Homo sapiens: one gene and its partner. The protein of the gene in region 1 interacts with the protein of each later gene in a pairwise test. Each region holds a gene or a part of one and is shown on either strand. Other genes may lie near its edges.

Region 1 (3,749 bases):
AAGTGGTTGAGAAGTAAGATGCTGCATGGCTGGGAGGCTGGGAGTGCACACGTTGATGGGGAAAGGCTGGGGTCCAAGGGGCTCTGCTGGGGGATTTGGGTAGGCAAGTAAGCGTTGTGACATAGGAAGGTGAGTGATCCTGAAAACGGGTAGGGGACCGTGGAAGAGAGAAAGTAAAGAGTACAACGACTGCAGGATTTCAATTTCCTGCTCTAAGAAGAAACACCTCTGAAAAATAATGTGCAACACACGAAGTGCTAAGTAACCTAAACCTTATCATCACCAGTAATGTTTCTGTAAATCTACTCCGCCGTTATTTACTTAATTCTTACAAGGCAGGAATGGAAAATCCCCACTCTCCCTGGTTGCGTCGCAGTCTGTCCTGTGGACATATGTAAGTTTTCCCTCTCCCCCACAGAGCTGATTTCACAGCTAGGCCAGAAATAAGGAACCATCCAGACGGAGACTCGAGGATCGCTCCCTGGCAGAAAAGGGATTAAGTTTCACCGGGCCTCCCCGCCGGCAGGGCGTCCGCAGCCACGCCGGCTGCTGCGACAGCACCGCCCGGCAGACGGCCGGCCAAGGGGCGACGCCTGGGCCGAGGAGGCTGCCGGCTGCGGGAGCGTGGGAAGGCGGCCGTGCCCTTTCCCAGACTCGCGCCCAGGCGCCGGGGGATTCGCTCGACTGCCCGCGCCGGGCCCGGCCAGGCTGCGCAGAGGCCTCGGCCGCCCCCGCCCCGCACCCCGGAGTGCAAACTCCGTCCCAGGAGGGCAGTGGCAGGAACCCGGGCCCCAACAGCATGACTGAGAGCCGGAGCTGAGCTGGGGCCCCCGTCGCCGTTTCGAGCCTCGCGGGCCCCATCACCCTGCCTCGCCGAGCCGGAGAGCCCTCGGCCAACGCCGGGCCCCGGCGGCACCTGAAAAGCGGCCGGAGCCGGAGACTAGCCCTGCGAGGGCTACGACGCTCGACCTCCAGGGCCGCGGCGAGGGGGCGCGTTTTACCCATAGCGTTCCCAGGTGCCAGCCATCTCCTCCGCTCGCTCGAGGGCGCTGGGCTCTCGTCTGCCTCCGCAGCGGGTTGGCTCGGGCTCCGGCGCGAGCTCCCGGGCCCCGGTCGCCGCCGCCGCCGCTACCACTGTAGGCCGCCGCCCGCCTTCGCCGCCGCTGCCGCTACCGTCGCCGACGCCGCGCAGCAGCCGGGATCCGCCAGCCCGCGCGCCCCGCAGGGGACAGCACGGCGGCCGCGATGCTACCGCAGCTGGGCCTCCCGAGCTAAACTTAAGAGTTTTCGCCCCTCAGTCCAGGGGCAGCACCATGACACCACGGCAGCACCACACTGTCATTTCCGCCGCCGCAGAGGAAAAAAAAGGCAATCCCTTCCAAAAGGGAGGCGGAGTGGGGGCAAACGGGGCTGGGGCTGACACCCCAAGGGAGCACTGGGAAGGGCCCAAGAAGAAGGGGTGCTCGGCCACCTTCCCAGGCTCACCTTCCGCCGCCCCCGCCACTCCCAGCTCCCCCAGCCCTTCCTCTGGAGGCACGTTTACATGTCTTCTCCCCTGGCAGGAGTGACCGGAGAAACCTGAGCAAGCAAAGGCAGCCGGTGGGTGGGGCTCGGGTTACTACTGTACCTACCAGCTGATTCCAGCAGCCTTTTCTCCAGCGCCCTGTCATCTTGAAGGAAGACACACCGAGAGGGACCCGGACGGGTGTGCGTGTGTGTGTGTATGGTGTGTATGTGCGTGTGTGTGTGTGTGACAGAGCGACAGAGATAGCTAAATGTGTGTGAAATGCAGAAGGAAGGCTATGGCTAAACTCTTCTCCCACTCCCCAATCCCCCTGTCCCCCAACCCCACAAACCCCCAGGTTAGAACAAGAAAGAGGCCTTTGCAACGGGTAATAAGAAGAGAGAGCCGGGTCCACCGCAGAGATCCTCCCTATGAAGCTGCTCTATGCAAAGTTAACTACAGAGTAAAACAAAAATAGTGGAGGAGATAGAAAAGGGCAGACAATTGAAGGAAACCGAACCTCTCTTTCTTTTTACAAAAAAAGAATGGCTGTGTTTTATTGGCCTCGGGCAGAAGTTGTGGAGGTGGATTAAAACCATCAAAAGAAAAAAAAAAGTAGGATTTTTCTTGTACCTTCAAATTGTTGACCAGTAAAACAAGAGGGTCGTTACCACATGGACAATGAGGCAGATGCTAGCTATCCAGCTATTCCAGGTCCCTAATAAGCTAATTGGTCCATTTGGAATCCAGCATCCTCCCATTGGTCTGGAATCAGCCTGTTTGCTGACCTGTCATTGGCTCAGAGACCACCACCCGACTCAAAAGGTGGATGGGAGAGGGAAAGAGCAGGAAGCCCCATAAGAGACTCTGTTTCTAACTTGGGGCAAAAAGGGAGAAGAAGGGGAAAGAAATGAGAAAATGGGAAGACTCACCCCAGCACACACACACACACGCCTCCCATCATTGTGCATAGGAACAAGTCCAGAAAAATTGAGGTATCTCTTGGTATATCCCTTCAGGGAACCAATAGTAATCAGTCAACACTCCTGTTAAACAATGTGCTAGAGAGCACTGAGGTGGAAACCAAGACAAAAGTCACAACCAGGCTCTCCTGATGAAAGTCTGGCCCCTAAGAGAAGTAAAAGTTAGTGAGTCACACTTAAAGCACAGGCAACAAAAGCAAAAATAGGTAAATGGGACCATAAAACTTTCAAACATCTGCACAGGAAAGGACACAATCAACAGAGTGAAAAAGCAACCTACAAAATGATAGAAAATATTTGCAAACCATATATCGGATAATGTGCTAATATCCAGAATGTATAAAGAACTTCTATAGCTCAATTAAAAAAAAAACTCTTAAAAGTGGACAAAAGACTTGAATAGACATTTCTCCAACGAAGATATACAAGTGGCCAACAGGCATATGCAAAGATGATCCACATCACTAATTGTTAGGGAAATGCAAATCAAACCCCAATGAAATATCACTTCACATCCATTAGGATGGTCACACACACACACACACACACACACACACACACACAAAACAAACACACAGGAAAATACGGCAAGGTGTGGTTCACACTTGTAATCCCAGCTACTCAGGAGGGGATGCTGAGGCAAGAGAGTCACTTGAGACCAGCAGTTAGAGATCAGCCTGGGTAACATGAATAGAACGTGTCTCTACAAAAAATAAAATTAGAACAGAAAATAATAAGTGTTAAGGTTGTGGAGAGATTGGAACCCTTGCACACTATTGTAAAAAGGTACAGCCACTATGCAAGGGAATGTAAACTGGTGTAGCTGCTATGGAAAATAGTATGGAGGTTCCTCAAAAAATTAAAAATAGAACTACTATATGATTAAACAATCTTACTTCTAGATATATATCCAAGCAAATAGAAAACAGGATCTCAAAAAGATACTGGCAAACCCACGCTTACAGCAGCATCATTCAAGAGGCAGAAGCAAATTTAATGTCCATCAAGAGATGAATAGATAAAGAAAATATGGTATATATACACAAGGGCATATTATTCAGTTTCAAAAAAAGAAGGAAATCCTGTCACATGTTACAAAGTTGATGAACCTTGAGGACATTATGCTAAGTGAAATAAGCCAGTCACAAAAAGACAAATATTCCATGATTCTACTTATATGACTGTCTAAAATAGTCAACTCATAGAAACAGAAAGTAGAATGCTGGTTGTCAGGGACTGCGAGGAGGGAAAAGGAAAGAGTT
Region 2 (3,749 bases), on another chromosome or scaffold:
CGTGGCCTCAAAGGGGCGATATGTCACAACATCAACAAGCATGTGGCATTTGCAGGCAGGAAGTGAGTATGGGGGTCAGGCTAGCCTCACTCAGGCAAGCCCTCCCCTAAGCCTCAGTTTCCCCATCTGAGCAATAAGGTAACAGGTGTGCCCACCTCTCAGGGCTGCTATGAGGACAACTGAGGCCACACACCTGGCTCTCAATAAGTGAGTGGTGCTCTGTGAGCTTCTGGCGAGTTAGGGGCACCCTACTCATTGCGGCCGGGGGCCTCCCCCAGCAAACGGGTGGAAAGAGGCCTGAGCCCCATCCCCAGTTTCTGCCCCTGCTATCTCCACCCAGGATCCACCAGAAGATATGAAGCAGGACCGGGACATTCAGGTGAGTTGGTGGCTAGGGCTTGGGATGGGGGAGTTGGGAGGGGGACATCTGCAGGCACAGAAGGATGTCCATTAGGGCAGGAGGGGAGATATTCACTGGGGCAGGAAGAGGACTCGTCTGTAGGGAGAGGAGGGCTGATGCTTATGTTGGTGCAGAAGGGGTGACACCCCCCCACCTCATCCCCACCTGCCCCATTCCACAGGCAGTGGCGACCTCCCTCCTGCCACTGACAGAAGCCAACCTACGCATGTTTCAACGTGCCCAGGACGACCTTATCCCTGCTGTGGACCGGCAGTTTGCCTGCTCCTCCTGCGACCACGTCTGGTGGCGCCGCGTGCCCCAGCGGAAGGAGGTGATGACCTAAAACTTAACCTCGACTTTGACTGTCCCGAACTCCACTCCTGACTCCTATCCTCAGTGACTGTACCTCTGACCTAAGGATTTCAATCACTGAGAGTCCAATCCCTGACCTCCAAACTCAGAGCTCAGCCTTGATCTCTGATCCCAACCCCTGACCCAGGACTGGACTTCTGACCTTAAATGTGAGAAGCCCAATACCTCCTTACCCCAGAACCTGACCCTTGACCCACAATTGAACAGCTACTACAGAAATCAAACCTGGCCAGGCGCAGTGGCTCATGGCTGCAATCTCAGTGTTTTGGGAGGCTAAGTAGGGAGGATCGCTTGAATTTAGGAGTTTGAGACCAGCCTGGGTGACAGGGTGAGACCCTGTCTCCAAAAAAAAATGTGTTTTGAAGACAGGGGGTCTCGCCCTGTCACCCAGGCTGGAGTGCAGTGGCGGGATCATAGCTCACTGCAGCCTCCACCTCCTGGCCTCAGGTGATCCTCCCACCTCAACCTCCCAAGCAGCTGGGACTACAGGCCTGCGCCACCACACTTGGCTAATTTTTGTATTTTGTGTGTGTGTGTGGAGATGGGGTTTTGCCATGTTGCCCAAGCTGGTCTCAAACTCCTGGGCTCAAGCAATCTACCACCTCAGCCTCCCAAAGTGCTGGGATTACAGGCATGAGCCACTGTGCCTGGCAAAAAAAAATTTTTTTAATTAGCTGGGAGTGGTGGTGTGTGCCTGTGGTCCCAACTACTCAGGAGGCTGAGGTGGGAGGATCGTTTGAGCCTGGGAGGTCGAGGCTGCAGTAAGCCATGATCACAACACTGCATTCCAGCCTGGGTGACAGAGCAAGACTCTGTCTCTAAAAAAAAAAAGAAAGAAAGAAAAGAAACCAAATCTGACCTCAAAAACACAGCCCCAAATCTGGCTTCTGAACCTCCTGACTAGTAGTTCACTTCTGGTCAATGCTTAACTAGTTCTTGCAAAAGAGGCAGGAAGCCAAGATGTGTAGTGTTTGCCAATTTCTGTGGTGTAAATATTCCCACCATGGTCAATATCAGGCTACCCACGTGAAGTCACTGATTGAGTTGGGTTGCTCAAGCTGAGGCCAGCCGCTGCAGCACACTGCTAGCCCTGACCCCAACCTCAGACACCTCTGACAATCCTTGGTCCCCTCTCTGTACCTTCCTGCCCACCACCACCAGGTATCCCGGTGCCGGAAATGCCGGAAGCGCTACGAGCCAGTGCCAGCTGACAAGATGTGGGGCCTGGCTGAGTTCCACTGCCCGAAGTGTCGGCACAACTTCCGGTGAGGGCGCTGACCCCCAGCTCCCCCTCAGCCCTGCCCTACCCCAGCCCTGCCCCTCCCTGCCCTGGCCCCACCCTGGCCCAGCCTCGCCCTCGGACCCTCACAGCCCTGCCCGCCCCCAGGGGCTGGGCACAGATGGGGTCCCCGTCCCCCTGCTACGGGTGCGGCTTCCCCGTGTATCCAACACGGATCCTCCCCCCGCGCTGGGACCGGGACCCGGATCGCCGCAGCACCCACACTCACTCCTGCTCAGCTGCCGACTGCTACAACCGGCGAGGTGAGGCTCTTCTCCCCCAACAGCCTGGACAGTCTTTGTCCCCTTCTGTGCCTTTAAGTCCCCAAATCTCCACTCAGTCCACTTTGTCTCCCACAGCAGCAGCCACTGCTTCCACATGGCCTCCATGACCCCCCAGTCTCCGTGGTCTTGCCCAGGAGGCTCTGAGGTTTCACCCCAGTGGCCCGTGCCTGAGGGTCCCCATGGCCTCTGCCCCCATGGTCTCTGGGTTTGGGGCCCCTGTTTTGTCCCCTGTAATCTCAGGTGACCCCCATGTCCCCAGGTCTCCTGTATCTTCAACACCCCTGAATGTCCAGTTGTGCTGGTCCCCGTATCTGGTGGTCTCAGCTCCTCCCTAGAGCCCCGCGTGGCCTAAGTCCCCTCCTCCCCAGACTCTCATGGGACCTCCAGCCCCATGTCTGCAGCACCTCTCCCTCCCTAGAGCCCCACGTGCCTGGGACATCCTGTGCTCACCCCAAGAGCCGGAAGCAGAACCACCTGCCCAAAGTGCTCCACCCCAGCAACCCTCACATTAGCAGTGGCTCCACTGTGGCCACCTGCTTGAGCCAGGGTGGCCTCCTGGAAGACCTGGACAACCTCATCCTGGAGGACCTGAAGGAGGAGGAGGAGGAAGAGGAGGAGGTGGAGGACGAGGAGGGCGGGCCCAGGGAGTGACCCCTGCCAGGTGCAGATACAAACCAGACACGGTCTGTGGCTACTTTGTGTTATTATAAGATATGAGCTCAAACCGAGATATGAATGACCTTGGGGAGCCATCTGAGGCCAAGATATTGACGGGGGGGATTCCTGGGTCCCATTTTCAGCGCCCAGGGTCACAGATCCACAGTGGGAAGTTCTGTGGGACACATTGGCACTGAGCCACAAAGAAGGTGTGGCCAGAACAACTTGGGCTCCTGCTGACCAATGTCCTCTAGGGCCTAGGGGACAGAGGAACACAGAGTCACAGCTTCAGGGGCCGAATGAGCATGGCGGCCTTCCTGAGAGAATATGCCCCACCACGAAACTCAGCCCAGTAGACACCATCCTGGTAGCGGCTTCGGTAGTGGCCGCCGTGGTGCCACACACCGTTGAGGTTGGAGTGGGCACAGGCATGGTACCACCAGCCTCCCCGCTGGTACAGGGCACAGTTACCTGAGGGGAGAGAGAGAGTCCATGTCCTCTCACCAGAATAAAAGCCTCTACCTGCACCTCACAGTGCAAGGCTTTTGCCAGGCATCCCCTGGCCCCTCCCATTCTTATTGAATACAAGCCCTGATCTTCCATCTCCTCAGCAAAAAAATAGGAGCCCTGGCCCCCCAACTTTCTTCAGAGTAATAGCCTTAATTCCTTCCCTATCTCCTTACCAAAGTACAAGTCACATCTTTCCCACCTTTTCTGCAAACTAGGAGTCTACCGTTCATTCCTTTATCAAAGAAAA

Evidence for each region. The genes of interacting proteins can lie anywhere in the genome.
Region 2: the proteins of MID2 (region 1) and SHFL interact in binary tests that used the Homo sapiens proteins (3 or more experiments, as listed by UniProt).

What each region holds. Positions count from the first base shown.
Region 1 is NC_000023.11:107,823,683-107,827,431, reverse strand, and holds the start of MID2 (probable E3 ubiquitin-protein ligase MID2), read right to left. Parts: upstream 1,567-3,749; 5' UTR 1,006-1,566; coding exon 1,002-1,005; intron 1-1,001. UniProt on the Homo sapiens protein: E3 ubiquitin ligase that plays a role in microtubule stabilization. Mediates the 'Lys-48'-linked polyubiquitination of LRRK2 to drive its localization to microtubules and its proteasomal degradation in neurons.
Region 2 is NC_000019.10:10,089,317-10,093,065, forward strand, and holds part of SHFL (shiftless antiviral inhibitor of ribosomal frameshifting protein), read left to right. Parts: coding exon of another isoform or gene 1-62; intron 63-162; coding exon of another isoform or gene 163-173; exon of another isoform or gene 174-334; intron 335-340; coding exon 341-379; intron 380-581; coding exon 582-731; intron 732-1,933; coding exon 1,934-2,037; exon of another isoform or gene 2,038-2,159; coding exon 2,160-2,314; intron 2,315-2,753; coding exon 2,754-2,986; 3' UTR 2,987-3,272; coding exon of another isoform or gene 3,273-3,463; 3' UTR 3,464-3,749. Other genes in the region: ANGPTL6 (angiopoietin-related protein 6), read right to left, coding at 3,273-3,463.